Homo sapiens: one gene and its partners. The protein of the gene in region 1 interacts with the protein of each later gene in a pairwise test. Each region holds a gene or a part of one and is shown in the gene's direction. Other genes may lie near its edges.

Evidence for each region.
Region 2: the proteins of TMEM243 (region 1) and RETREG3 interact in binary tests that used the Homo sapiens proteins (3 or more experiments, as listed by UniProt).
Region 3: the proteins of TMEM243 (region 1) and TMEM80 interact in binary tests that used the Homo sapiens proteins (3 or more experiments, as listed by UniProt).
Region 4: the proteins of TMEM243 (region 1) and EBP interact in binary tests that used the Homo sapiens proteins (3 or more experiments, as listed by UniProt).
Region 5: the proteins of TMEM243 (region 1) and RMDN3 interact in binary tests that used the Homo sapiens proteins (3 or more experiments, as listed by UniProt).
Region 6: the proteins of TMEM243 (region 1) and FAM174A interact in binary tests that used the Homo sapiens proteins (3 or more experiments, as listed by UniProt).
Region 7: the proteins of TMEM243 (region 1) and BIK interact in binary tests that used the Homo sapiens proteins (3 or more experiments, as listed by UniProt).

The regions. Positions count from the first base shown.
Region 1 is NC_000007.14:87,199,153-87,203,761, reverse strand, and holds part of TMEM243 (transmembrane protein 243), read left to right. Parts: intron 1-1,007; exon of another isoform or gene 1,008-1,582; intron 1,583-2,535; exon of another isoform or gene 2,536-4,609.
Region 2 is NC_000017.11:42,578,400-42,582,688, reverse strand, and holds the end of RETREG3 (reticulophagy regulator 3), read left to right. Parts: coding exon 1-15; intron 16-418; coding exon 419-876; 3' UTR 877-3,174; downstream 3,175-4,289. UniProt on the Homo sapiens protein: Endoplasmic reticulum (ER)-anchored autophagy regulator which exists in an inactive state under basal conditions but is activated following cellular stress.
Region 3 is NC_000011.10:698,422-702,437, forward strand, and holds part of TMEM80 (transmembrane protein 80), read left to right. Parts: intron 1-447; coding exon 448-467; intron 468-1,720; coding exon 1,721-1,814; intron 1,815-2,193; coding exon 2,194-2,286; intron 2,287-4,016.
Region 4 is NC_000023.11:48,527,012-48,530,325, forward strand, and holds the end of EBP (3-beta-hydroxysteroid-Delta(8),Delta(7)-isomerase), read left to right. Parts: coding exon 1-14; intron 15-143; coding exon 144-274; intron 275-1,222; coding exon 1,223-1,446; 3' UTR 1,447-1,705; downstream 1,706-3,314. UniProt on the Homo sapiens protein: Isomerase that catalyzes the conversion of Delta(8)-sterols to their corresponding Delta(7)-isomers a catalytic step in the postlanosterol biosynthesis of cholesterol.
Region 5 is NC_000015.10:40,735,039-40,739,015, reverse strand, and holds the end of RMDN3 (regulator of microtubule dynamics protein 3), read left to right. Parts: intron 1-439; coding exon 440-515; intron 516-973; coding exon 974-1,051; intron 1,052-1,289; coding exon 1,290-1,388; intron 1,389-1,674; coding exon 1,675-1,728; intron 1,729-1,811; coding exon 1,812-1,892; intron 1,893-2,421; coding exon 2,422-2,475; 3' UTR 2,476-3,129; downstream 3,130-3,977.
Region 6 is NC_000005.10:100,558,809-100,563,417, forward strand, and holds part of FAM174A (membrane protein FAM174A precursor), read left to right. Parts: intron 1-3,245; coding exon 3,246-3,380; intron 3,381-4,609.
Region 7 is NC_000022.11:43,120,320-43,124,928, forward strand, and holds part of BIK (bcl-2-interacting killer), read left to right. Parts: intron 1-3,696; 5' UTR 3,697-3,703; coding exon 3,704-3,864; intron 3,865-4,609.

The DNA.
Region 1 (4,609 bases):
AGGAGAATTTTGACTCTATCCAGTATGCTTACTTTTATTATTAGTTAGAACTTAAAATTCTGTTGTACTTCCCACTTGGCTGTCAGAAATCTTCATACAAACATTTGCGTTTAAATGAGAAATGTTTTTTAAGACAATTTTTTTTTTTTTTTTTAAGATTCTCATTCTGTCCAGGCTGGAGTGCAGTGGCGTGATCCTTGCTCACTGCACTCTTGACCTCCTGGACTCAAGTGATCCTCCCACCTCAGCCTCCCAAGTAGCTGAGACTACAGGCACATGTCATCAAACCCAGATAATTTTTATATTTTTTTTGTAGATACAAGGTCTCAGTATTTTTCTCAGGTTAGTCTTGAATCCCTGAACTCAAGTGATCCTCCCACCTTGGCCTCCCAAAGTGCTGGGATTACAGGTGTGAGCCACCATGCCTGGCCTTTGTAGATTCTTTAGCTTTTTTTCCCCCCCATTCCACCATTCCCCAAAGCCTTTTCGAAATTTTGTCTTGGTCTTTTTATTGTTGGTTAGTTAGGTTAGGGTTTTATTATAGTAGCACATGCCCTTGAAATTCATTTTGGAAGTAGGCAAAACATTGCCATGGAAATGGAAGGCTGAATACAATGTCGCTTGTAAGCATTCCAAACTGTTTAGAACCAGGATATTTCCAGGGAGCTGAGGAGCTGAGGGCAGAGCTAGCTTTTGGTTATTTGGGATGTTATTGCCAGTTTCCTCCCAGGGCCATTGTTACCACCTGATCATTTGAGTTTTAGTTTCTCTAGCAGATGCTGGCTAATGACTGACCAGGCAAGTATAGGGGTTCTCTGGCTTTTAATCACTAGGGGATTAGTCCTTCTCTGGCCCAAGTGCAGTCTGGTGATTCAGAACCATAAAGTGTAAGAACTGAAAGGGACCAGGTATCATTTAGCCCAGTCTTCTCATTTGATAGAGTCAAATGGGTTAAGGAATCCTTTTGAGGTTACGAAGCTAGCTAGTGGCAGAATGAGATGAGAACCTTGGTTTCTAGACCGTGTTAAGGTCTGTATTTATTAGTTTTAGGACTGTTAGACCTTTTGAACTGTTCATTACACTTGTCTTTTGTGAACAGCATTGGATAGGAGATTTTTTGCCATTACCTAGCCGTGTGACCTTTGGCAAGTCAGTCTTCTGGAACCTAGTTACCCATTGGTAAATAGAGATAACACTCCTTACTTGCTTTCCACCATTCCAGATACAAACCAGTTGCATATATCTCCATCTTTTTCTCCTTCCTCATTCTAAAGGAAGACAAAGACATGAATCCGTCAGGCCCAGGCTCTTCACTGTGCATTGCATTCCAGCTCTTTTCCTCTCAGCTCTCATGAAACTTGGTCAACAATCTCCATTTGTCCCATTGATTTTTTGTAACAGCAATGCTTTTGTTCTCCCATGGGTCTTTGTGGAATTCCTTTCATGAACCATCTTTCCTTTCCTTTTCATCTGCTAGTCTTCCTCAGGGTTTTGACTTCTCTGGTAGTCTCTCCTTGACTGTCCAAGATAGCTCACTTTCTGTCTTCTTAGTGCCCTCCTGAACTCTGGATAGTGTAAACTTCTGGAAGGTAGAGATGTTTTTATTCACTTTTGTATTTGCATCTGAATTATAGTAGATAATGTTTAAATGCATAAATATATGACTTACAAGATGATATAGGTGAAATCTCAACTATATATATACATGTATGTATGCACACAACGTCTGTCTTTATGTTCATGTATATATGAATTCAGACTATCTCTAAACCTGTTGCAGAATATTTTGTCTCTGGGAAGGAAATCCTAAATCTGTATCCTGTCCTCTCAGCAGGCAAGGATCCAGGCTAATTGCCATCCTTTGTCCTGTCAAGCTTCCTTGTGGAGTGAAAATAAGCCACAGTACAAGGTTTAAAATTCTGGTAGGAGAGACAAGTTATGGTAGGTAGAACTAGAGTGAAAATAAAACTGGGGAGGAGACAGAGCTAGTTTCTGTGAGAAATAATTGAGTTAATAGAGACTAGCTGTAGAAGTAGAAATAATGAGTTTCAATTTACTCCATAAACAGCAAAGTTTAAATGTATTACTCACTTTTCTCCATGTACTCTAGCTCCAATTTGGAGCATATTATTCCCCAAACTGTCCTTTGAAGTGTTAATTAACTAGCTATTTAATTATTCTCTATTATCCTCTTTGGAGATTGGGAGCTAGAAGAGCTGCTAAAACCCTGAAAAATAATCTCTAGGCCCAGGGAAGGAGCTGTACCCTGTGATTTGAACTTAATATTTAAAAATGGCTTATTTTAGACTAAACTTTAGAGCACAGCCTCTCCATTTTAAATGTGCACATAAATTACCAGATCCTGTTAAAACGCAGATTCTGATTCAGTTGGTCTCAGTGAGGCCTAAGATTCTGCATTTCTTGCAGTTCTCTCAGGTGAGGCCGATGTGCTGGTTCATAGACTACACTTTGAGTAGCAAGTTTAAAACAGAGAGCATTAGAAGTAGGAGGGCTTCTGAAGTTAACTCTGCATACCTGAATTCATGGTTGATAGAAGGCCTTGGCTTGGAGAAAGAAAATATTCTGAGAAACACTTCTGCCATGTCCGAAATAGTTCATCCCATCTTGGGAATCCCAGAGGGGACCACTACATTATAACAATAACTGATATTCATGAAAATCTGTTGGAATTCTGTTCAGTGACTATCTAAAAGGTAGGCAGGAAAGTATTCATTAAAGTTTAGATATATTTTCATCAGGATGATTAAAATCAGTTATATGGAGAAATCCAAAAATGTGGAACAAAGTCACCCATGAGGAAATCATTCTTGAAAGGTAAGCACAGTGTAGTACTTTGCTAATAGGCTTTTTGAGGTGTCATCTGCCACTTGACATCTTTGTCTAGACCAGCACTAGCACTCTAGGTTGTTCTTTGGGTGAGAAGCATAAATAGGGAAAGGAGGCCTGGCACTGAATCTTGTCTTTATCACTTAATGGTATTGAGATCTTGGGAAAGTTCTCAGTTTCCCTGAGCCTGTTTTGCTACCTGTGAAACAGTCATATTACCATTTCATCCTAGAATTTTTAAAGAGAGGATTGGTGAATGTGCTTGGCATAGTTAATATCCTTTTACCATTATTTTTCTCCTACTTTGATCCTGGTAGGCAACTTGCTGTGTGTCATTTGGCAATTAGTGATATATTGGCTTGACTTCTATTGGTGGGAGCTGTTATGAGGTATGCAGTGCTTCATTTTGGAAATCCCTGGCGCTCAGAGAGCAGCAGATATTCTTGCTTCTCAAAAATAGTGGGGCTCCCATGGATTTTGTCTCTCTACACATTTTATGTTGTCCCATGTGGGAAGAAGTTAAAGTGAGTGGTGACTTGTCCCTGGGTCCCTTTCCTAACAAAGTGGTCCTAAGTTCAGGCTCCTGTGTGCTGTGTAGGCTTCTCTAGCTGAGGTCGTGGTAAGATCTCTTCTGAGTCCTCTGGAGTTAGGGTGTGGCTGGAGTCCAGTATCTTTTGTTCTGTAACCTTTCAGTTGCAGTGGCCTTGGTCTGGAGAGTTGTGATTTGTCCTTGGTTAGATCACACACATCCAATACTTGGCTTTCTTACTCTTTCCCTCCCAATTTTGCCTGACTCTTAACTTCTGTGGGTTCTTATCCTTAAAAGGCGACTACTTGGAAATGAGAATTCGGTTGCTGCTCTGTGATTGTTCCTGTGTCCTTCCCATCTCTGAGGTTTTGTTTATTGGCGGCATGTTCCATATCCTGCCATTCTCTGCTCAGACCATTATCAAAACAACATTTAAGACGACTGATTCGTTAAAGACTCAGCTTTGACTTCTCAGAAATAAGACTGCATGTCACTATCATACTTTACCTTTTTAGTAGTACCTGAAACTACTTCTAACCAGTGACCTGGATTTAGGAATCTCTGGTTTCAAAATTGCTTCTAACTTGTTATGACTCTTAGAAAATAATTTAACCACACTGGGCCTAAATTTAGTTTAACCTGTAAAATTAGGATTGGATCAGTTTTTCAAACATTCTTTGTTGGTTGGGGTGGGATGGGAATGACAAGAAAGCTCAGTAGGTAGGTTCTTCATTCAACCAATATTTTGTTTATATACTAAAGCCCTTCACTATTAAATAACTTGGAAAAACTACTGGACTGGATGGTCTCTTAAGATTGCAAGTGCCAAGCCTTGGCACTCTAGGACCCATCCCTTTTAACAGTAGCATCTATTTTTAGACTAGACAAGGATACCTAAGCTGTATTACAAATATAGTTCCAGACACATCATGGTACTCTACATCTAGTCCGGTTCCTGATACCTTTAACCAATGCTCTGGCCTGGCCATTCCTGCAGTGCCTGTCCTTCTCCTTTGGCTTATGCTATCCTCAGCAGCACATGCATTATTTGTAAGCCTCCCTTACCCATTTGATACTACCCAATCAAGACTCTAGTATAAATGTTCTGTCCCTTCAAGAAACCTTCCCCAGTTGGCCATTTTCCCAAAGTACATTTTCCACTCTTATGGTTCAGTACACTTTGCTTTGTCTGGTAGTTTTATGTGTAAAGCTCAGAGGACTGGATCTTGGGTT
Region 2 (4,289 bases), on another chromosome or scaffold:
CGGAAGGCTCTGAAGGTGAGGGGAGCCTTTGACCTCAGTTGATAATGGCTCTGACTGTTGCCTCTTAGCTTCCCTGAACAGAGGGGATACTGGTGCTTGCCCCTCTCCTGTTTTCTGAGCTATGGATCAGGCGGCAGAGCAGCCTGAGTGCTGTGGCTACAGCCAGGATGGCACTGCTGCCCTTCTTGAAGACTTTAGTCCCTTAGTAGCCTCAGGCACTAGCCTCACAGGGGACATAGAAGAGAGGGGGAATTGTGTAGAGATCACAGCCACCTATAAGTGGAGGGGAAAGGTATACCAGTCCCATGGGTTTATTTCGCCCTGAGAAAGCCAGGGTGGGAAAAATCTGGTCATGTGGGGCTGGGGCACAGGAGGGCCAGGTAGGTGCCATGACTCAGACACTTCTGTATTCCACCAGACCTAGATGGTCACAGTGATCCAGAGGAATCCTTTGCCAGAGACCTTCCAGACTTCCCTTCCATTAATATGGATCCTGCTGGCCTGGATGATGAGGACGACACTAGCATTGGCATGCCCAGCTTGATGTACCGTTCTCCGCCAGGGGCTGAGGAGCCCCAGGCCCCACCTGCCAGCCGGGACGAGGCTGCGCTGCCGGAGCTCCTGCTTGGTGCTCTTCCTGTAGGATCCAACCTCACCAGCAACCTTGCCAGCCTGGTCTCCCAGGGTATGATTCAGCTGGCCTTGTCAGGGGCCTCCCAACCAGGCCCTTCTGGAGCACCTGCCCAGAGAGCAACGAGAGGCTTCCTCCGGTCCCCCAGTTCAGACCTGGACACTGATGCTGAGGGGGATGACTTTGAACTTCTGGACCAGTCGGAGCTGAGTCAGCTGGACCCTGCCAGTTCTAGGAGCCACTGAGGCAGAGACTCCTTTTGGGAGTCACTGTGGTTTAGGTTTTTTTCTCCCCATCCCACTTAAGGTGATGGGGCAAGGGAAGAACTCAGCTCCCCTCCCCTGAATTATATTTGTATGCTGGGTGGCCTGGCTGATGCTCAGAGGCCTCCTTAGAGAGGACACTCACTCCCCTCCCACCAGCTGGATGCCCATTTCTGAGCTCAGTCACTGAAGTGAGAGTGTGCTCCCCCAAGGGAGGCTTCTCTCCATCAGGATGGTACTTTGGGGGAACAAAATAGTCAGGGATATTGGTTCCCCTTTGAGGAGGTGCTGCTGTTTGCTTTTAGGTATGAGTGCTCAGGGGCCCTCACTGAAAGAGCCCATGCCTGCCTTCCTCCTTTCATCGCCTCTCTAGAGCCCCCAAAGTCAGGCAGCAGCTGGAGTAGTTACATTGTCATCATCTTTTTTTTTGAGACAGTTTCGCTCTGTTGCCCAGGCTGGAGTGCAGTGGTGTGATCTTGGCTTTCTGCAACGTCTGCCTTCCAGGTTGAAGAGGTTCTCCTGCCTCAGCCTCCTTAGTAGTGGGATTACAGGTGCCCGCTACTATGCCCGGCTAATTTTTCTTTTGGTATTTTTAGTAGAAATGGGGTTTCACCATGTTGGCCAGGCTGGTCTCAAACTCCTGACCTCAAGTGAGCTGACTGCCTTGGCCTCCCAGAGTGCTGGGATTAGTCGTCATCTTTTGTTAAACCAGGATTTGATTTTTTTCTTTTCTTTTCTTTTCTTTTTTTTTTTTTTGAGACAGAGTCTCTCTCTGTTGCCCAGGCTGGAGTGCAGTGGCACAATCTCGGCTCACTGCAGCCTCCGCCTGCCGGGTCAAGCGATTCTCCTACCTCAGCCTCCTCAGTAGCTGAGATTACAGGCATGCACCACCATGCCCGGCTAATTTTTTTGTGTTTTTAGTAGAGATGGGGTTTCACCGTGCTGGCCAGGCTGGTCTAGAACTCCTGACTGCAAATGATCAGCCCGCCTCAGCCACCCAAAGTGTTGGGATTACAGGTGTGAGCCACTGTGCCCAGCGTGATTTTTTTTTTTTTTTAAAGCAAACTTGTCCTTTGGTTTTGCAGAACAGGCCTGCTCCCTCTCATCTAGCCCATCATTTCTTGGGGCCTGAACCCCAGTGGTCCAAAGTATTGCTTGTGAAATTTAAAAAATGTGAATATGATGTGGGGATGGGCCTCTTCTACATTACCTTGGCCCAGGGGGATCAGCTGGCTGGGAGGATTAGTGAGCACCTCTGTATTTTGAGGTCTGAGTCTTCTGGAGCTGTGTAGTTAATCTTCGGTTTCTGATAACCCCTGGGTCCATCTGGCCATCAGCCTCAGCAGTGAGCAAAGCAATACCATACTCATTTCTATGTTCCTGTTCCTTCCTCTGCTCCTCCTTTGGAGAAGCAATAATTCATGGGGGATGATACAGTAGCACTTTACAAATGGCTCCATGTCATTCATCCCAGGGGCCATAATCTCTTGCACCACCTATTCTTACTTCCTGTTCAGCTCCTTTACAGCTTTTATTTTCAACTGCTTCCCAACTTGGTGGGGCCTCCTTTAAGGATGAGCCAATAGTAAGAATGTGGCTGTAATCAGCAGAGACCCCTCTGAGGGGTATCTGTTCTGCAGCCCCTAGTGAAATCATGTGATGTGAGACAGAAACCTAAACATGGTACTTGATTCTAAACCTGTGCCAGTCTATAGCCTCTGCCTCCCCAAGCAGAGCTCAAGCCAAACGCTTCTGTCCTCTTTCCTTCTGCATTAACCCTTTGCTGATCCTCAGGGGCCACTCCCCCAACACCCCTGTACTTGGGTGAGGGATGTTGGACAGAGCCTGTTTTCATGTACTGCAGGTGGGGGTGTGCTGACATGTTTGCTCTTGGTTGATGGAGAAGGTACAGAGGCCAGGGAGTGAAAATGGTTGACAGAAGAGGGAAGAGTTAGGTGTCTCATAGTCACTCATAGTGGGGTGGTCAGGGGTAATGGCATCTCCCCACTTTAGGCTTCTCAAACAGACTTTTGACACCTCTCAAGTTCAGAGCTCTGATGTGGAAAGACAGGAGGTGTGGGGAAGGAGGGGGATTTCGTGTGTTTGCATGAGTGTGCGCTTCAGGCCTTGGGAGTTGGCAAGAGGGAGGGAAGGAAGGAGAGCAAAATCTTCGGAAGGTGTTTCTTGTACCTGAGGGATCCTGCCCTGAATCTCCATAGTCTCCACTGTGAACTGAGGAGGGGAGGGGTGTGCTGGGGAATAAATCTTGTATGAGAACAATCTTTAAGAGACTGATGCTGAATGGTGTCCTACCCTTGATAGGTCTTCTCTTGTAAATCTGAGTTCTGATTAATTTGAAGTGATAGCCTTAAAAGAGGAAGCCCAGGTATGAGGGACCCACCAGCCCACCCCTATTTTTACTTCGTGATGGCCAGAACATCACCATAGTATGAGGCTACTTTCCTTCTTGTGAGAGCCCCACCATCAGTATAACTGGCACTCTTGGCTAGTATTTAGCCTGTATTTCCTTCATTTCTAATTTCTTTTTTTTTCCTGAGACGGAGTCTTGGTCTGTCGCCCAGGCTGGAGTGCAGTGGTGCGATCTCTCACTGCAAGCTCCGCCTCCCGGGTTCACGCCATTCTCCTGCCTCAGCCTCCTGAGTAGCTTGGACTACAGGCGCCCACCAGCACGCCTGGCTAATTTTTTGTATTTTTAGTAGAGATGGGGTTTCACAGTGTTAGCCAGGATGGTCTCGATCTCCTGACCTCGTGATCCGCCCGCCCTGGCCTCCCAAAGTGCTGGGATTGCAGGCGTGAGCCACCGCGCTCGGCCCTTTCATTTCTAATTCTTAATATTGTCTCCTAAACGTGCAGAGACAAGCACACGTTTTAAAGGCTAAGGAGGTTGTAGGTAGCAGAAGGCTTTAAAAAGTAGCACCTTACTCCTTCACTGGATGGTCTGAGCTGCAGGGACAGCTGCTCTTTGGCCTTCAGCTCACCTCAGAAACTAGAAATATTTATTTCAGGCTCTGTCCCATTGGCCACTGTGGTCAGGGGTGGAAAGCACCTGCCAGGTGTTGCCCTGAGATTGTCTGGGCTAACAAACTTTTCCACAAGCTTTGTGGTTGAACAGTAGCCCCCTCCTAACCCTATCGTTCCTTGGCGTCCAAACTACAGTAGGTGTCGAGTGCCCCCTGGGTGCGAAGCTCGGTATTAGGCAAATAAGGGTGGTTGCTCTCCAAGGCGCTTAGCTGTCCCCCCTTCCCACTTTTTTTTTTTTTGTTCGAGACTGCGTCTCGCTCTGTCGCCAGGATGGGGTGCAGTGGCGCGCTCATAGTGGCTCACTGCAGCCTCGATGTCCGGGGCTCTGGTGACCCTCCCACCTCAGCCTCCAG
Region 3 (4,016 bases), on another chromosome or scaffold:
CAAATGTCTCATCAATCATGAAAAAAGATTTGTTACAACCTAAGTCAGAAAAGGTTTTCATCTAGTCATATATGTGTGGCAAATACGGAGAAGCCACAGACGGTGAGCCACAGACAATGAGAGCAGCTGTTGGGGTGGGCTCCAGGGTGCTGCTTTCCCTGAGGGCCAGCTGGGTCTGGCCCAGGTTCACTTCCCACCCCGGTGCCCCCGGTACTCGCTGTCTCCAGCCTCAGGTTCTGAAAGGCAGAGACTCCTAGCCTCATTGAAGGATGGTTAGAGAGGCACGGGAGCTATCTAGTGGCAGGCCCACGGTATATGTTTGCTGCTTTCTACAAATACGAGATCAAAGGAAAATAAAGCAGGGGTGGTTCCTGTCAGTGTGGAGCGAGACCCGGGAAAGCATCCTGGTGGCTGTCAGGCCTTGCTCACGGCCCCTTTCTCTTTCAGGGAGAGGATCCTCCACAGTGGTATCCTGCTGCGTGCCCCTCCAGGACAGCACCCAGAGGCCCGAATTGCTGCTGCACAGAGAGCACTCGGCCTCACCCCACGTTTTCCCTAAGTTCTGTCTAGTAATTCCACTTTGGAGAGGGGGGTGTTCCTTGACAGATTTAGAGAGTTGATGTAACTTCCTCGGATCAGTTCTGCTGGCTCCATCCCCTACCTGCTCAGCCCTGCACAAAGTGGCTAAGCACGCCACACTGCCGGCTCCCAAGGCGATGGCCACCTGCCTCTGTCTCGGCCGCTAGTGGCAGGAAGATGGAAATCCCTCACTTTGTCCCTAGATTCATTTTATTTTATTTTTGTTTGTTTATGTTTTTTTAAGGACAGAGCCTTCCTCTCACCCAGGCTGGAGTGTGGCAATCACAGCTCACTGCAGCCTCAGCCTCCTGAAGCTCTGGCATCAGGCGGGAGCCACTGTGCCTGGCCCCATAGACTCATGTTAGCATAAACAAATAGGAAATGTACACAGCTCAGGAAATGGCTACTAGATACTTAAGTCCCCCAAACAGAAATATATTTCCTCTGAAGAAACTGAAAAAAGTGGCCGGGCGCAGTGGCTCATGCCTGTAATCCCAACACTCTGGGAGGCTGAGGTGGACAGATCACTTGACACCAGGAGTTTCAGACCAGCCTGGCCAACATGGTGAAACCCTGTCCCTACTAAAAATACAAAAAATTAGCTGGGCATGGTTTTGCACGCCTGTAATCCCAGCTACTCAGGAGGCTGAGGCAGAAGAATCACTTGAACCCAGGAGGCGGAGGTTGCAGTGAGCCAAGATTGTGCCACTGCACAGTGTCCAGTCTGGGCAACAGAGCAAGACTCTATCTCAAAAAAAAAAAGAAAATGACAAAGTTATTTTTTCTCTCTTAACTCATAACTGGGGCCAAAGGCAGGGTGACATCACTGGGGATGCCAGTGTGTGGAGGCTGTCCCCTGACCAGTCCTGTCCACAGTCAGGAGGGCAGGGGCTGCAGTGCACAGACCGCATTGTTGTGGCATGGAGGGGGGTCCCACAAAGGCCTTGTCAGCTCATGGGACCACATTGGCAGCCAGCATAGTGACAGAAGCCTCAGATAGGCAGTGAGCCATTGCCAAGACTCCATGGTCCCTTGGTGTCTGTGGCCACCAAACAGATGACAGAACCAGCCCCTCTTGTTCAGCCACCTGGGAGGCTGCTCCCAAGCCTGTTGAGCTTGAGGATCCTTAACCACTCACCAGCTCTCTTCAGTTCCCCTTCAAATGCTGTTTTATCTCAGCGGAACGTACTACGCCCTGTATTTCCTCGCCACGCTCCTGATGATCACGTATAAAAGTAAGTCAGGGACGGGCACAGTGGCTCACGCCTGTAATCCCAACATTTTGGGAGGCTGAGGTGGGCGGATCACTTGAGGTCAGGAGTTTGAGACCAGCCAGGCCAACATGGGGAAACCCCATCTCTACTAAAAACACAAAAAGTAGCCGGGCGTGGTGGTGGGCGCCTGTAGTCCCAGCTACTCGGGAGACTGAGGTGGGAGGATTGCTTGAACCCGGGAGGTGGAGGTTCCAGTGAGCCAAGATTGCGCCACTGAACTCCATCCTGGGTGACAGAGCAAGACCCTGTCTCAAAAAAAAAAAAAAGGAAAAGGCAAGCTGAGGTGGCTGCTGCTGCTGTGCCAGGTTACTTATGTTCCGTCCGCGCCTCTGCTCTTCAGGTCAGGTGTTCAGCTATCCTCACCGCTACCTGGTCCTCGATCTTGCTCTGCTGTTTCTGATGGGGATTCTAGAAGCAGTTCGGTTATACCTGGGTGAGTGGACTGTTAACACCGTGAAGAACCTGTCCTAAGAGTTGCTATCTGTTTCCACAGCCTTTCAAGAGTAATTATTTTATAGTGTGGTTCTCAGAGACATTTTTTATCCAAACTGCTTACCCAGTTGCTTTGCAGGCTCACCTTACAGTGTCATTAAGTATTAATCAAGAAGTTTTGTCCCAGAGACAAATAACACTGGGGGCATCGTTGGGAGAGACTCTGTGTTTGGAAGCATGTCTTGTAGAAGCCACTGGGTAATGGCACTGAGATCAGAAAAGCCCAGCCCACCACCACATCTGGAGCTCCGGAATATTCACCAGCACCCCTTTCCTTCCCCTTGCCCTTAGCTGTCTGAGGAGAGAGCCCTGGAGAGTTCTGCCAGGTCCCAAAAGGCAGCAGAGTCTGGAGGGGTGGGAGCCCCCAGCCTCCCCACTCCAGCTCTAGGGATCCCCAAGTCTGCAACCCCTTCCAGTGACCTACTTTTTTTGAGACGAGGTCTCACTCTGTTGCCCAGGCTGGAGTGCAGTGGTGCAGTCACAGCTCACTGCAGCCTTGACCTCCTGGGCTTGAGCGATCCTCCTGCCTCAGCCCTCCCCTCCTCCCAAGTAGCTGGGATTACAGGCACCTGCCACCACGCCCAGCTAATTTTGTTTTGTTTTGTTTTGTTTTTTTTTGGTAGAGACGAGACAAGGTTTCTTTTTTTTTTTTTTTTTTTTTTGAGACAGAGTCTCGCTCTGTCGCCCAGGCTGGAGTGCAGTGGCGTGAACTTGGCTCACTGCAAGCTCCGCCTCCCGGGTTCACGCCAGTCTCCTGTCTCAGCCTCCCGAGTAACTGGGACTACAGGTGCCCGCCACCACGCCCGGCTCATTTTTGTATTTTTAGTAGAGATGGGGTTTCACCATGTTAGCCAGGATGGTTTCCATCTCCTGACCTCCTGATCCGCCCACCTCGGCCTCCCAAAGTGCTGGGATTACAGGCGTGAGCCACCGCGCCCGGCCGGAGACAGGGTTTCGCTATGTTACCCTGGTTGGTCTTGAACTCTTGGGCTCAAGCAATCTGCCCACCTTGGCCTCCCAAAGTGCCTGGCCTCACTCCCCTTTTTTTAACCACACAATTTGTTCAAGGGTATGTTCTTGTACAAGATTCAAGGGGTGCAGAAGTAAAACATGGAAATTCGCCCTCCCCAGAGCTCACCTCTGTGGCCAGCGGGGTGCAGACTTCCAGCCCTCTGCGTGCTCATGGTCGTAACATGTGCACCTAAACACACGTGTTTGTGAAACATTGTCCTGCCGTGGGGAACGCAATGGGCACTTCCAGGGCGCTGTGCCCCTGCCAGGCTGGAATCTTGGGCCCCTCTTGTTCACATACAGATACACCCCTGATGCCTGATGTCCAGTGAGGAACCAAGGCTGCGGGGAAGGGTGGCCCCCACCCTTCCTCTTGTTATCAGGCCTCAGACACACTAGGAGGATGGAGGCGAGTTCTCTCAGCTGCCCATCCCACTGAGGGGTGCCCGGCCGTCAGTGTCTTGTCTGCACTTACGTCCCAGAACCTCTAGAGCTTGCCCCCCAGGGCGGGCACTGCTGGGAGGGTGCGAGCACCGCTGCGGCACAGAGGCCCGGTTCTTGGCTGATCTTCTGGGGCCTGGGCCTGCCCTGAGGTGGTGGGGACAGGGTGTGGCCTGGCCCTGCTGGGGGCTGCTAGGCCAACGGGACCCTCCCCAAGCG
Region 4 (3,314 bases), on another chromosome or scaffold:
AGCCGATACATCCTGTAAGTGTTTGCCTCTGTCAATGGAGACTGGCATTGGTTTTCGGGGGGTGGTGAGTTGGGGAGCACTAATGGGCTAACCTGTAGGAAGAGCACACCGATACCAGTGTCCCCTCATGCTTTCTCCTGCAGGGGTGACAACTTCACAGTGTGCATGGAAACCATCACAGCTTGCCTGTGGGGACCACTCAGCCTGTGGGTGGTGATCGCCTTTCTCCGCCAGCATCCCCTCCGCTTCATTCTACAGCTTGTGGTCTCTGTGGGTAAGGAAAGGGCACTAGAGGGGCACTGGGCACTAGAGGGGTTGATGGGGGATCCACAGACACAGATGTATCCCTGTGGGTGGGATCTCTCAACGGTGCCCTTCCAGGGGTAAGTCAGACTGAATGACAAACCCCCTGAGGCTCTGGAAAGGTCATGCCCTTCTCTGAGCCTGCACTCTCAGGTGGGGAGGGTTCATTTTTCTTCCTCCTCCTCCTTCTCCATCACAAAGTCTCCTGTGAAGGTTACATGAGGTGGCCCAGGGTGGCAAGAAGCCCCTGGAACCTCCAGGATCAGGGCTCTGAGATCCCTTCATGTAAGATTCTGTCATATTTTTTTTAAAACAGGGTCTGGCTCTGTCACCCAGGCCAGAGTGCTATGGTGTGATCTCGGCTCACTGCAACCTCCACCTCCCAGACTCAAGCGATCTTCCTGCCTCAGTCTCCTGAGTAGCTGGGACTACAGGCATGTGCCACCGTGCCTGGCTAACTTTTGTATTTTTAGTAGAGATGGGGTTTCGCCATGTTGCCCAGGCTGGTCTCAAGCTCCTGAGCTCAAACAGTCCTCCTGGCTTGGCCTCCCGAAGTACTGGGATTACAGGTGTGAGCCACTGTGCCCGGCCTCAGTCATCTTGTGTTATTAAATTGTTAGCTTTCTTTAGTTCTAGCGATATGAGTTATCTTTAGTCCCAGAATCCTAAGCTGTCTTGGATTTGAGGATTTTGAACTTCCTTAAATCTGAAGGTGTGAGCTCTCCTGAGTTCTGAAATTCTCAGCTCTCTGGTGTCTGGAATCTCACTTTTCTGATTTCTCAGATTTTCAGCTCTGTGATTTCAGAATACTTAGCTCTGAGACCTTGAATGATGACTTGGAAAGTGCTTTGGAATAGAGAATTGGCGAAAGTGTCCCCTTCCTCACTGGGGCTTCTCCTTCCCCTCCTGCCACCCACAGGCCAGATCTATGGGGATGTGCTCTACTTCCTGACAGAGCACCGCGACGGATTCCAGCACGGAGAGCTGGGCCACCCTCTCTACTTCTGGTTTTACTTTGTCTTCATGAATGCCCTGTGGCTGGTGCTGCCTGGAGTCCTTGTGCTTGATGCTGTGAAGCACCTCACTCATGCCCAGAGCACGCTGGATGCCAAGGCCACAAAAGCCAAGAGCAAGAAGAACTGAGGAGTGGTGGACCAGGCTCGAACACTGGCCGAGGAGGAGCTCTCTGCCTGCCAGAAGAGTCTAGTCCTGCTCCCACAGTTTGGAGGGACAAAGCTAATTGATCTGTCACACTCAGGCTCATGGGCAGGCACAAGAAGGGGAATAAAGGGGCTGTGTGAAGGCACTGCTGGGAGCCATTAGAACACAGATACAAGAGAAGCCAGGAGGTCTATGATGGTGACGATTTTTAAAATCAGGAAATAAAAGATCTTGACTCTAACACTGAGAGATCCTTAATTACTAACCCCAGAGATGCGCTATGACTGACCCCACAGATCCCACCATCATTCACTTATTCCAGACCCCCATCAGCATCTAAAGACCTCCCACCTCTGACCTCACAAACCCCTATCACTGACCCCCCGCCAGACCCCATAACTCACTACACAGACCCTATCACTGGCCCCACAGTCCCCTGGTCTTAACTCGAGCTGCCATAACAGAATGCCACAGACTAGGCTTAAACCACCGAAGTTCATTTTCTCACAGTTCTGGAGTCCAAGATCAAGGTGTCAGCAGGTTTGACTTCTCCTGAGGCCCCTGTCCGTAGCTTGCAGGTGGCCACCTTCTCAGTGTCCTCACATGGTCTCTATGAACTAGCGTCCCTGTCCCTGGTGTCTCTCTGTGTGTCCAAATTTCCTTTTTTTTTTTTTTTTTTTGAGACAGGGCCTCGCTCTGTGTCAGGCTGGAGTGCAGTGGTATGATCATGGTTCACTGCAGCCTCTACCTCCCTGGCTCCAGCGATCCTCCTGCCTCAGCCTCCTAAGTAGCTGGGACTACAGGTGTGCACTACCACACATGGCTATATTTATTTTTTTTTATAGCAATGGACTCTCACTATGTTGCCCAGGCTGGTCTCAAACACCTGGGCTCAAGTGATCCTCCCACCTCAACCTTCCAAGTAACTGGGACAACAGGCACATGCCATTATACCTAATTTTTGTTTTGTTTTTTTTTTTTGAGACGGAGTTTCACTCTTGTTGCCCAGGCTGGAGTGCAATGGCACGATCTTGGCTCACCACAACCTCTGCCTCCTGGGTTAAAGCAATTCTCCTGCCTCAGCCTCCCGGGTAGGTGGGATCACAGGCATGTGCCACCATGCTCAGCTAATTTTGTATTTTTAGTAGAGACGGGGTTTCTCCATGTTGGTCAAGCTGGTCGCGAACTCCCGACCTCAGGTGATCTACCCGCCTCTGCCTCCCAAAGTGCCAGGATTACAGGTGTGAACCACCATGTCCGGCAATATTTTTTCAATTTTTTGTAGAGATGGGGTCTCACTATGTTGCCCAAGCTGATCTCAAACTCCTAGGCTCAAGTGGTCCTCCCACCTCAGCCTCCCAAGTAGCTGAGACTACAGGTGTGAACTACCATGCCTAGCCCAAATTTCCTTTTATGAGGACACCATTTGACCAGCCTGGGCAACATGGTGAAACCCCATCTCTACAAAAAAAATTTTGAAAATTAGCTGGGCATCATGAGGCCACGGTGGGAGGATCATCTGAGCTAGGGAGGTGTAGGCTGCAGTGAGCCATGATCACGGTGAGAGCCTGTCTTAAAAAAAAAAAGGAGGTGGGGGGTGGGCACCAGTCAGGCACAGTGGCTCATGCCTATAATCCCAGGCTGACACAAGTGGATCACCTGAGGTCAGGAGTTTGAGACCAGCCTGGCCAACATGGTAAAACTCCATCTCTACTAAAAATACAAAAATTAGCCATGCATGGTGGCACATGCCTGTAATCCCAGCTACTTGGGAGGCTGAGGCAGGAGAATCACTTGAACCTGGGAAGTTGAGGTGGCAGTGAGCCAACATCATGGCACTACTGCACTCC
Region 5 (3,977 bases), on another chromosome or scaffold:
AGTGATACACCTGTATGCTTAAAGGCTAATGAGACCCACTTTTTTGTCTGCCCAGAAGATAAGTAGTATAGTCAGGTCTCATACTTTTATGCTGATTGTTTTCATGCTTTTCAAGTTTTTATTAATGCCTGTGGCTGTACTCCTTATGAGTGTAGGAGAGATTTACTGTGTAAGAGAGATTTACTGTGGTGAACCCAGCTTTTTTTATACCTAGAATACTTTGGAGACTTGTAAGCCTACCATTATCTACTAAAGAATACTAATTGGGGCCAGAGGTCCGTAAAGAATGGGGATTACGTACAGATGAAAATTAGGTATTTTCAGCTCTAGTTGAGGGTACAGGGATAGGGGACAATGCAACTAGGCTGTGGTTGGGGCATCCATTCCTTGCAGTGATGGTACTCAGCCCTTGTCCCTGAGCTTGCTGCTTCCCCCCTAGGTATGCGGTGCTTTGTGGTCAGCTGGCTGAGCATGAGAGCATCCAGAGGCGCATCCAGAGTGGCTTTAGCTTCAAGGTGAGGACAGGCTTTTCCTCCTTCCTTGTGCTGGCCTATCCCAGATTCCCCACTCCTTTCCAGCTCCCTGCCAAAAACTTTTCTACAGCCTCAGTGACTTGCCTTTCTTCTTTTTTTTTGAGACAGAGTCTCACTCTATCGCCCAAGCTGGAGTGCAGTGGTGTGATCTTGGCTCACTGCAACCTCCTGGGTTCAAGCGATTCTCCTGCCTCAGCCTCCCAAGTAGCTGGGATTACAGGCATGTACCACCATGCCCGGCTAATTTTTGTATCTTTAGCACAGATGGGGTTTCACCATGTTGGCCAGGACTGGTTTCGAACTCCTGACCTCAGGTGATCCACCTGCCTCAGCTTCCCAAAGTGCAGGGATTACAGGCATGAGCCACTGCATCCGGCCCTTGCCTCTCTTTTAGCAACTCTGGTGTCTGATGTTAGTTTATATTTACATTTTCCCCTTAGGAGCATGTGGACAAAGCCATTGCTCTCCAGCCAGAAAACCCCATGGCTCACTTTCTTCTTGGCAGGTGGTGCTATCAGGTAAGCTGCGTTTCAGTGCTTGACATAATGGTCCTAAATGCCTTCTGACACCGATTTCCTTGCCAGGAAGAACAAGATCCTCAGCCTTCTCTGGCTCAGGTGCCCTTTCTTCTGAATGCTCGTATTATTGGTGGTTCGACCCAGCCCCGTTTGACCCTATTTTCAATATATCCCCAAAGATTTAAAGAAAAAAAACCTTTTAAAACCTCTTATACACACCTTGATCTTTTTGTGGCAGGTCTCTCACCTGAGCTGGCTAGAAAAAAAAACTGCTACAGCCTTGCTTGAAAGCCCTCTCAGTGCCACTGTGGAAGATGCCCTCCAGAGCTTCCTAAAGGTATGAGAGGGGCAGGTGGCAGGCAAAAACACCAGGGTAACCTTGTTTTTTCCTAAGGACATTATTGAGACCCTTAATGGGAGGGGTTTTCCTAGTCGGGGGCAATTTTGTGTTTGCCTGTTCTATGGGAAAACCAGAATCACTTGCACAGCTTATCAAAAATATAGGTTTCTTCAGACCCACTGAATCAGCCACATGGTTGGGGACTAGAAATCTAGTTTAATAAACTTCAGCCTGATTAGAATATAGGAACCTCTTACTGAAATATCTTTGTCCCTTTTCCCAGGCTGAAGAACTACAGCCAGGATTTTCCAAAGCAGGAAGGGTATATATTTCCAAGGTAAACTCATTTGTCTACTTCAACATAGATCTGGGAACTCCTGAAAGTACACAGTATCAGGTTTCACTGTTGTCTCTTTTCAGTGCTACAGAGAACTAGGGAAAAACTCTGAAGCTAGATGGTGGATGAAGTTGGCCCTGGAGCTGCCAGATGTCACGAAGGAGGTAAGGCTTTTTAATACTGCCTGTTGGGCAGATCACCTGAAGTCGGGAGTTCGAGACAGCCTGACCAACATGGAGAAACCCCATCTCTACTAAAATTACAAAATTAGTTGGGCCTAGTGGCGCACGCCTATAATTCCAGCTACTCGGGAAGCTGAGGCTGGAGAATCGCTTGAATCCGGGAGGTGGAGGTTGCAGTGAGCTCAGATCGTGCCATTGCACTCCAGCCTCGGCAACAAGAGCAAAACTCCATCTCAAAAAAAAACCAAACAAAACTGCCTGTCATCACTGAATCATCATGTGACATTTTTAGAAAATAATCTTTCCTAGAGGTCTTATTTCCCTAGTAAAAAAGAGTCTACCTCTAGGGGAAGAGACAGATTTAATAGGCTCCAGGCTATCCTGGGGAAGTAGGAAAAAGACTGTAGCAGAGCTCAGGAAGGAAGCAAAGGGCCCCTCTTCTTAGGTTCCACTGGTTTGGGAAAATGCTGGTTTAAATTTTGAGCCCTAGATTTGTTCTTTGTCTCCCTAGGATTTGGCTATCCAGAAGGACCTGGAAGAACTGGAAGTCATTTTACGAGACTAACCACGTTTCACTGGCCTTCATGACTTGATGCCACTATTTAAGGTGGGGGGGCGGGGAGGCTTTTTTCCTTAGACCTTGCTGAGATCAGGAAACCACACAAATCTGTCTCCTGGGTCTGACTGCTACCCACTACCACTCCCCATTAGTTAATTTATTCTAACCTCTAACCTAATCTAGAATTGGGGCAGTACTCATGGCTTCCGTTTCTGTTGTTCTCTCCCTTGAGTAATCTCTTAAAAAAATCAAGATTCACACCTGCCCCAGGATTACACATGGGTAGAGCCTGCAAGACCTGAGACCTTCCAATTGCTGGTGAGGTGGATGAACTTCAAAGCTATAGGAACAAAGCACATAACTTGTCACTTTAATCTTTTTCACTGACTAATAGGACTCAGTACATATAGTCTTAAGATCATACCTTACCTACCAAGGTAAAAAGAGGGATCAGAGTGGCCCACAGACATTGCTTTCTTATCACCTATCATGTGAATTCTACCTGTATTCCTGGGCTGGACCACTTGATAACTTCCAGTGTCCTGGCAGCTTTTGGAATGACAGCAGTGGTATGGGGTTTATGATGCTATAAAACAATGTCTGAAAAGTTGCCTAGAATATATTTTGTTACAAACTTGAAATAAACCAAATTTGATGTTATCAGCTCTTTATTCTTACTTGACACCTCCATAATTGTTTCTACCTACAGAGGCTGTTGCAGGCAGGTTATGGTTAATGCTCTTTACAGTATATAAAATACAGGTATCGAGCTTATTTTTAGCCTAAACAAGGCCTATTGCAACTAAGCAGGTACTCCCTGCCTTTCTCATGTTCATTTTTAGGGCCACGAGCACAAACCCCTAAATCCACCTAGAAGAAAATTTAAGACTGAGATGCATAGGCCGAGCGTGGTAGCTCATGCTTGTTGCTTGTAATCCTAGCACTCTGGGAGGCCAAGGCGGGTGGATCACTTGAGGCCAAGGGTTTGAGACCAGCCTGGCCAACATGGTGAAACCCCCATCTCTACTAAAAATACAGACAGAAAAAATTAGCTCGGTATGGTGGCGCACGCCTGTAATCTCAGCTACTAGAGAGGCTACAGCAAGAGAATCACTTGAGCCTGGGAGGCAGGGGTTGCAGTGAGCTGAGATCACACCCTTGCGCTCTAGCCTGGGCAACAAGAGCAAACCTCTGTCTCAAAAAAAAGATTGAGATGCTTTCATATAAGAACCAACCCCTTAATCTAGAATGTCACTGTGTCTTTATTATACCAACCCAGATTTTTTTTTTTTTTGCTGGAGTCTCGCTTTGTCACCCAGGCTGGAGTGCAGTGGCGCGATCTTGGCTCATTGCAACCTCCACCTCCTTGATTCAAGCAATTCCCCTGCCTCAGCCTCCCAAGTAGCTGGGATTACAGGGGCATATCACCACGCCCAGCTAATTTTTTTTGTATTTTTAGTAGAGACGGGGTTTCACCATGTTGGCCAGACTGGTCTGGAACTCCTGAT
Region 6 (4,609 bases), on another chromosome or scaffold:
TTTATTTTGAGCCTATGTGTTTCTCTGCATGTGAGATGGGTTTCCTGAATACAGCACACTGATGGGTCTTGACTCTTTATCCAATTTGCCAGTCTGTGTCTTTTAATTGGAGCATTTAGCCCATTTACATTTAAGGTTAATATTGTGATGTGTGAATTTGATCCTGTCATTATGATGTTAGCTGGTTATTCTGCTCCTTAGTTGATGCACTTTCTTCCTAGCCTCGAGGGTCTTTACAGTTTAGCATGTTTTTGCAGGGGCTGGTACCAATTGTTCCTTTCCATGTTTAGTGCTTCCTTCAGGAGCTCATTTAGGGCAGGCCTGATGGTGACAAAATCTCTCAGCATTTGCTTGTCTGTAAAGTATTTTATTTCTCCTTCATTTATGAAGCTTAGTTTGGCTGGATATGAAATTCGTGGTTGAAAATTCTTTTCTTTAAGAATGTTGAATATTGGCCCCCACTATCTTCTGGCTTGTAGAGTTTCTGCCAAGAGATCAGCTGTTAGTCTGATGGGCTTCCCTTTGTGGGTAACCCGACCGTTTTCTCTGGCTGTGCTTAACATTTTTTCCTTCATTTCAACTTTGGTGAATCTGGCAGTTATGTGTCTTGGAGTTGCTCTTCTCGAGGAGTATCTTTGTGGCGTTCTCTGTATTTCCTGAATTTGAATGTTGGCCTGCCTTGCTAGAACTTCCCTATCCAGGGAAGTTCTCCTGGATAATATCCTGCAGAGTATTTTCCAACTTGGTTCCATCCTCCCCATCACTTTCAGGTACACCAATCAGACGTAGAGTTGGTCTTTTCACATAGTCCCATATTTCTTGGAGGCTTTGTTCGTTTCTTTTTATTCTTTTTTCTCTAAAATTCTCTTGTCACTTCATGTCATTCATTTGATCTTCCATCACTGATACCCTTTCTTCCAGTTGTTCGCATTGGCTACTGAGGCTTGTGCATTCGTCATGTAGTTCTCTTGCCATGGTTTTCAGCTTCATCAGGTCCTTTAAGGACTTCTTTGCATTGGTTATTCTAGTTAGCCATTTGTCTAATTTTTTTTCAAGGTTTTTAACTTCTTTGCCATGGGTTCGAACTTCCTCCTTTAGCTCGGAGTAGTTTGATCGTCTGAAGCCTTCTTCTCTCAACTCGTCAAAGTCATTCTCCTTCCAGCTTTGTTCCGTTGCTGGTGAGGAGCTGCGTTCCTTTGGAGGAGGAGAGGCACTCTGATTTTTAGAGTTTCCAGTTTTTCTGCTCTGTTTTTTCCCCATCTTTGTGGTTTTATCTACCTTTGGTCTTTGATGATGGTGACGTACAGATGGGGTTTTGGTGTGGATGTCCTTTCTGTTTGTTAGCTTTCTTTCTAACAGTCAGGACCCTCAGCTGCAGGTCTATTGGAGTTTGCTGGAGGTCCACTCCAGACCCTGTTTGCCTGGGTTTTTTATAGAGAAAGTTTAGACCTCTGGTCTACATGGTGTGTGTGGGTGTGTTTGCACACATACACACACATATACATGTTAATGTAACAACCTAAACATACTTAATTTCTCACTGTGAAAGAAAGAGTACTTTGTATTTCATACTGCTTCATTTTTGCTAGTACTAATATTTACTGACCCTTTCATTGGTTACATTTGTAACTTTAAATGCTATGCTTAACTCTCTGTTTCCTGTTCCATCACTTTAGACGTGTATATAGATAGCTCTATAGGTAATGACTGGTGGAAATTTTCTTTGTTTGTACTCACACTTAGTAACATTTTGTAAATTTTAACACTGAGACCAGGCACTTTACACCCAGGTGCTAATATCATACCTGATGCTTAATAAGACTCAATTATTTGTTGAAGGTATGTTTGTTTTCCAGGAGCTTCACTGTCATGTTTGAGGAGTCTCATGTTGCTCTTTACAGTTGATGTTATAGCCCAAGTATTTCTTATCCCACATATGTCAAACAGAGTAAATCAGAATTTATGTAAACTGATTTTATTTGTGATAACTTGCTGAAATATTTTCTATTTATTTTCAAACTCCAGTGGACACTCTTGTGAAACACATTTTGCTGTCTGTGGAGTTGAAGTTGTTGCATTGGAGATGACTTAGGCATTCCTTGCAGGGTCACAGTTTTGGTCGCCAAAGTAGAAGTCACTCAGACCCTCAACAATTAATTGAAGAACATCTTAATTGATACATCACTGTGCTAGGAAGTGGTTATGTAGTGGTGAATAAAGCAGTCTTGGTTGCTGCCCTCAGAGAACTTAGTGGGAGAGACAGATGAATAAACCCCACATAAACATATACATCAGCACATAGGAATGCAAATTAAGGTAAATGATTTGAAGGAAAAGAACAAGTTATTTGAGACACAAACTGGAAGTAGGACTCTAAATCTTGAGATTTCATTCATATGGCTAATAATGAATGTTAAGCACCCTTGAATCTTTTGAATTTCTCTAAGCCAGTGGTTCTCAAACTTGAATATGCATCAAAAGCATAAGAAATGTTTGTTAAAAGACAGGTTTCTGGGCCCCATCTTCAAAGTTTGTTATTCACTAGGTCTGGGCTAGCCATGAAGATTTGCATTTCTCGTAACTTCCTAGGTGACTGTGATTCTGCTGATCCAGAGAACCACACTGCAAGAACCACTGATCTCAGATAATGGTTTATATCACATTGGAATCACATTTAGAACCTCAACAAAATATTCATATTTAGTTCTTTTTTGCTGTACATTTTGATTCAGTTATGTCCTAAACATGGGACTTTAAAAAATACTCCCAGGTAATTCTAGTGTGCAGCTAGAGTTGTGGGCTATCAGTTTAGTCTGTGAATATGCATATACATACAGTTTCTTAGAGGGGCATCTAAACAGTGGTAAGAAAGCGGGGAGGACATGGGGAAAAGGCTGGAGCAGGAGGTTTCAGTAAAGAAGTACCTGACCTAAGCCTTTAAAAATTAAGGTTTAAAGTACGGTACCTGAATTTAAGGCTTAAAAGTTATTTGTCAACACCATCAGTTGACACAGAGAGAAGAGAGTATGTCAGACAGAAGAAACAGGCGATGGCACATAAACATGTAGGAGTAGGTTTTGTTTCATGAAGTTTAATCCTAGGTGGTAAATTTGTTGCATATCTGAAATGTAACCATTCTGATATTGTTTGCTATGTCAGAAACAGAATAATAATTTATTTTATAAATAAATATAAACTATGCCATATTAAATAATTTTTATTCATTAATTTGTTCTATTTGATAGGATGAGAAGAAGAAACCGAAAGACTAGGAGATATGGAGTTTTGGACACTAACATAGAAAATATGGAATTGACACCTTTAGAACAGGATGATGAGGATGATGACAACACGTTGTTTGATGCCAATCATCCTCGAAGGTAAGTATTCCAGTAGTTTAATTCCATGAATCAGGAAGCAAGTCCTTGCCAAGTAAACTGAAGAAGTAAAGTAGACTTTCATTTAACAGCTTATATTCCAACACAGTTTCTTCAGTTCTGTTTACTGAAGTTCTTTTTGCTATCTACCCCATAGCTCACATTCACGTTGTTTTGCTCAAATAGATACAAACAATAGAATACCATCTCAAAATATTTTTTTTAATTTATTCTTCTGTTTTTATCTTTTATTTTAAGTTCAGGGGTACAAGTGCAGGGTCGTTACATAGGTAAACTTGTGTCATGTGGTTTTGTCGTACAGATTATTTCATCACCCAGTTATTAAGCCTAGGACCCATTAACTTCTTCATTCTTGCAATATGTATTAACTTGGGTGTGTGTGTGCATGTGTGTTTGTGTGCGTGTGTGTTTGTGTGTGTGTGTGTGAGAGAGAAATACTTATTAAATTTAATTTCCTTTTTGTATTCTGAAGATATTTTCTTTTTAGTTTGGGTTCTAGTGTTTGTAAATAGTGCTGCCTTGCAGAATTGGGGGACTAATTGTTTATGGTCTGATCATGTAGCTGTAATATATATACTGAGATCTATTCTCAGTAAGTGTTAAGACCTTTCCTAAGAGGTTTAGATAAATAAAATGACATGAGTATAGAATAAATGCCAATGTAAATAGAATGGGGAAAAAAGCCAACAAAGATTCAACCTAATAAGGAAAGACATCTTGGAATCCAGAGGGATTACTTGGGTGAAGGAGAATTAGAGTCCAGAGTCAGGTACAAATGCAAAGAAAACAGAAATCTTAGGATTACAGAAAAGAAGATGACTCAACAAAAATTGGACTACTAAGTCCTGTATATCTATATTTATATCTATATATGTCTATCCATCTATCTATCTAAGCTGTTTATATATATGCACACACACAAAGGAACTTTTAGTAATGCTGATAATTTGTTCATTTAATACAAATATGTTCATGAATTATACATTTTAATAGTATTACAGCCTGAATAGGCAAACATGAACAAAACAATTGCATCTGTTCTTCAGGCACTCACTTTCAATTAAAGACGCATATAAGATGAAAGAAAAGGGACAGAAACTGATATTCCATGCAAATGGTAACCAAAACAAAGCAGGGGTTGCTAAATTTATATCAGACAAATTAGATTTTAAGTCAAAAACTATCTCTTGAGACAAAAAAAAAAAAGATCA
Region 7 (4,609 bases), on another chromosome or scaffold:
TGGGATTATAGGCGAGCGCCACCACACCTGGTTAATTTTTGTATTTTTAGTGGAGATGGCGTTTCACCATGTTAGCCAGGCTAGTCTCAAACTCCTAAGCTCAGGTGATCCACCTGCCTCCACCTCTCAAAGTGCTGGGATTACAGGCGTGAGCCGCACTGCACCAGGCCAGGTCTAGGGAGCCGAACAGAGCAGTGACAGGGTCAGGGTTGAGGCTGCTACCTTGAGATTAGGTTGGAGAGAGCTCCACTGAAGGCTGGAGACCAGTAAGGCATTCAGAGCTGGTGCCAGGTAGGAGCTGACAGGACTGGGCCTCCCTTGGGCTGGTGGGGTGGCCAGGAGAGACCAGAGCAGGAGGTCGCTGCTGCAAGGACCCTCCTGGGCAGGCTCCCCACCTTCCGCTCCCTGGCTCCACACTTTTCCCATGCAGATCTGGGCCCTAAGGCCAGCCTAGGCCCAGTTGGTGATGGGATCTTTGCCATTCATATCAAGTCAATCTGAGGGCCTGGGCCCAGAGGCCAGATGGTTAAAGGTTCAGATTAGGTCCCTTCTTTGTGGTAGAGGGTAATGGGTATTTAATAAATTAATCCAAAGTGCTGTAATCCCAGTACTTTGGGAGGCTGAGGCGGGTGGATCACTTGAGATCAGGAGTTGAGACCAGCCTGGCCAACATGGTAAAACCCCGACTCTACTAAAAATACAAAAATTAGCCGGGTGTGGTGGCATGTGCCTGTAATCCCAGCTACCTGGGAGTCTGAGGCAGGAGAATCACTTGAACCTGGGAGGCGGAGGTTGCACCTGAGCTGAGATCACACCACTGCACTCCAGCCTGGGCAATAGAGTGAGACTGTCTCAAAAACAAACAAACAAACAAACAAAAAAACACTACCACCAACAAAAACACAATAGATGGGGAAACTGAGGCTGGTGCAGGAAGGGTTGGGCTAGGGTATCAACCTAAGGTGAGATGTGGTCCTGGGTCTACTCAGATGGGGAGGTTGGCAGGGTGGGGAGCTTGAAAGGGTCTTGCAGGCAGAGCGTGGGTGACTGACTCCTCAGGTAGGCCTGACCTGCACTCTGCTGCAGACCCTCGGCAGCGCAGCCCACTCTGGTGGCTGGGGCCTTCTTCCTATCTGGCGCCTAAGGATTCTCGGAATGCCTGCTGGGTAAGGGGGCTGTGGGCACAGTGGGTCAAGGCGAGGCTCGGTGCAGCTCACAGCTCAGCTCACAGTGAGGTGAGGTTCCACTGTTGCTCTGGCTTTGCGGGGCGTGGAGGTACTGGGGTCTCCAGGAGCACAAAGCAGGAGACTGCCTTTTCGAGGGGAAGGGAAAGGGGGGAAAAGCAAACAAGGGCTGGAGCTGCTTTCCTAGGGAAATGCCATTTGCATAGACACCCAAGGCAGCTGGAAGTTCTGGACACAGTTCTTCTAATGCCAGCTTAACACGCACACTGCTGGCCGTCTATACAATGTAAAACATCTCATCTGTGAAACCTTATTTTTTCTTTTTGAGTCAGAATCTAGCTCTGCCTCCCAGGTTCAAGCTGGGATTACAGGCGTATGTCACCACGCCTGGCTAATTTTGTATTTTTATTAGAGGCGGGGTTTTACCATGTTGGCCAGGCTGGTCTCAAACTCCTGACCTCAGGTGATCCGCCTGTCTCAGCCTCCCAAAGTGCTGGGATTACAGGCGTGAGCCACCGCACCCGGCCCATCCATCTCCCTTGAATGCTGAAAGCAAGTCGTGAGCACACACTTGTGCCTAGGCCTGTGGGAGGGCGGCGCTGTGGGTCCTGCCTGCCGTCAGTTTTCTCTCTCCTGGGGGTCAGGGAGACTTGGAGCTCTGTCCCTTCTTGGCTTAGTCATGAACCTCTCTAAGCCTCAGTGTCCTGTGTGAACAAACAGCTCAGTGAGATGGTGGGAGGGCGGAGTGTCCTGTCAGCAGGCATGAGGAATTAAAAATTAAGAACACCCAGGGCATTATGGTAAGAAAATAATGAGTTGAAGCATAAAGGTAATGGTTAGTGCCAACTTCCTCCCAGCGTGCCAGGCCCTGTTCAAAGTACATGAAGGAGTTCCTTATTTCGTCTTCCCAATAGCCCAGGGCGGGGCTCTCAGACCATGAAACCCATTTCACAGATGAAGAAATTGACACACTGCTGCTAACTGCCAGAGCCGGGCTTTGAACTAGGCCATTAGATTTCCGTGCCACAGTCATCGTCATTATCGTCATCTACATCTAAGGCTGTTTGGTACCCTGTAGGGTAAATGTGGGGTACATGATGGTGAATCAGGTCGCAGAACCCTTCTCTGCCATCATGATGAAACATGTACTGGCATGGGATTCGCAATGATCATAGTTAGGAAGGCCTTTGGTGGCAAAGAAGAGGAAACTCAGTGAATGGTGATGAGGACACATTTGGGTTCATTTTTCTTACACACAGTTGGAGGAGACAGCTCAGTGACACCCTCAGGCCTGGCCGCTCTCTGCCTCCCCACTCTGCTCTTCTTGGTCAGCCACTGCAGCTCCATCTTTGAAGGAGCTGCCCTGGCTGTGTCTACTCCCTGGCATCCAACCCCTGCCTCCAGCCTCTGAGCCCTCATTGACCAGAACTGGGTTACATGGTTGTCACCAGCTGCAAGGGATGCTGGGAAGCTGAGGGAGAGGAGGGCCATGGTTGGCTTAGATGAATGAGGATGCAGGGCCACCCCGAAGAAAATTGGGGTTCTATCAGCAAGGAGCCAGGTGGAATGGATATCGGAGAGGTAAATAGCATCTGCCAGTAAAGAAGGCTGTAAGACACTGTATGGGGTGATCCCATTTGTGAAGAAGGATGTGTGATGCGCACAAGTGTTTAGGAAAAACACTAGAAGAATTAGCGATGGTCTCTCTGGGAATGGGGATTGTGATACGTTTTTCTCATGCTGCCTCTCTGCCTTTCTTCTCAAGAGAAACAGCAGACACCAAAGAACAGGTGTAGCCTTCTGTTAAGTGGTACAGAGGAATCGCCCTGCAGCCTGGCCTCTGTCCCCTGTGCTGACAGCAGGTGCCTGGGTTTTCTGCTTTGACAGGTTCTTGAGGGCTGGTGTCCGAGGAGAACTTCTAATATTTATTTATACTCTGATTTTGTTTCACAAAGAAGAAAAAGGCTGGGCGTGGTGGCTCATGTCTGTCGTCCCAGCACTTTGGGAGGCCGAGGTGGGGTGGATCACTTTGAGGTCAGGAGTTCAAGACCAGCCTGGCCAACATGATGAAACCCCCGTCTTTACTAAAAATACAAAATAATTAGCCAGGCATAGCTCATGCCTGTAGTCCCAGCTACTCGGGAGGCTGAGGCAGGAGAATTGCTTGAACCCAGGAGGCAGAGGTTGCAGTGAGCCAAGATTGTGCCACTGCCCTCCAGCCTCCAGCAAGACTCAGTATCCAAAAACAAAGAAAGAAAGAAAGGGCCCTTATGAATCATCTTCAAGTTCCTCCCTTCCAAGAACAGAGATGCTAGGCGACTTGCCCAGAGGCACACAGCCAGCATGTAGCAGGATTCATGCCTGTGGGAGCTGGGGTTGGGGGATATTGACGGCTTTAGCGGATCAAAAGAGCTGGTGAGTAGGGCTATACAATCTGGGGGTCATCCTGTGAGAGAGCCCCCAGACTGCTCAGTTCTTAGGGGTCCAGTCATATGCTGTCTTTTTGCCCCAGAGGAGAAATGTCTGAAGTAAGACCCCTCTCCAGAGACATCTTGATGGAGACCCTCCTGTATGAGCAGCTCCTGGAACCCCCGACCATGGAGGTTCTTGGCATGACTGACTCTGAAGAGGACCTGGACCCTATGGAGGACTTCGATTCTTTGGAATGCATGGAGGGCAGGTAGGTCCCCATGGCCTGCCCTACCCCCTGCCTGATAGTGACTTCAGGGGTGGGCTGGATGAGCAGACATTCTATGAGCGGGGGAGCGCCTGCAGATGCCTCCCAGGCAGGGCCTCCGAGAGGAAGATTTCCCGGATGTGGGCATGGAGGCTTCTGCCCTGGGAGCGGCTTCACTTTGCTGCCCCACCCTCCCCTGATACCAGCTCACAGACCCCTGGACAGCCAGCATGTTCACAGTCTCAAGATGGACCTGGGGCCCCTGGCTGTCAAAATGGCACAGTGTTTGGGCCTCAGGGAGCTAGACAGGCCCTTAGCGACCTGCTGAGGACATCAGGGCCTCTTGAAGGAGGTGACTCTGTTGCCAGAAAGGGGACCCGATCCAGATCCCAAGAGAGGGTTCTTAGATCTCAAGCAAGAAAGAATTTGGGCCACACGCAGTGGCTCGCGCCTGTAATCCCAGCACTTAGGGAGGCTGAGGCAGGCGGATCACTTGAGGTCAGGAGCTCGAGACCAGCCTGGCCAACATGGCAAAACCCTGTCTCTACTAAAAATACAAAAAGTAGCTGGGCCTGGTGGCACATGTCTGTAGTCCCAGCTAGTCGGGAGGCTGAGGCAGGAGAATCTCTTGAACCCAGGAGGCAGAGGTTGCAGTGACCCAAGGTTGCAAAAATGCACTCCAGCCTGGGCAACAGAGCGAGACTCCATCTCAAAAAAAGAAAACCTACTCTATAGGCAGAGCAGCGGC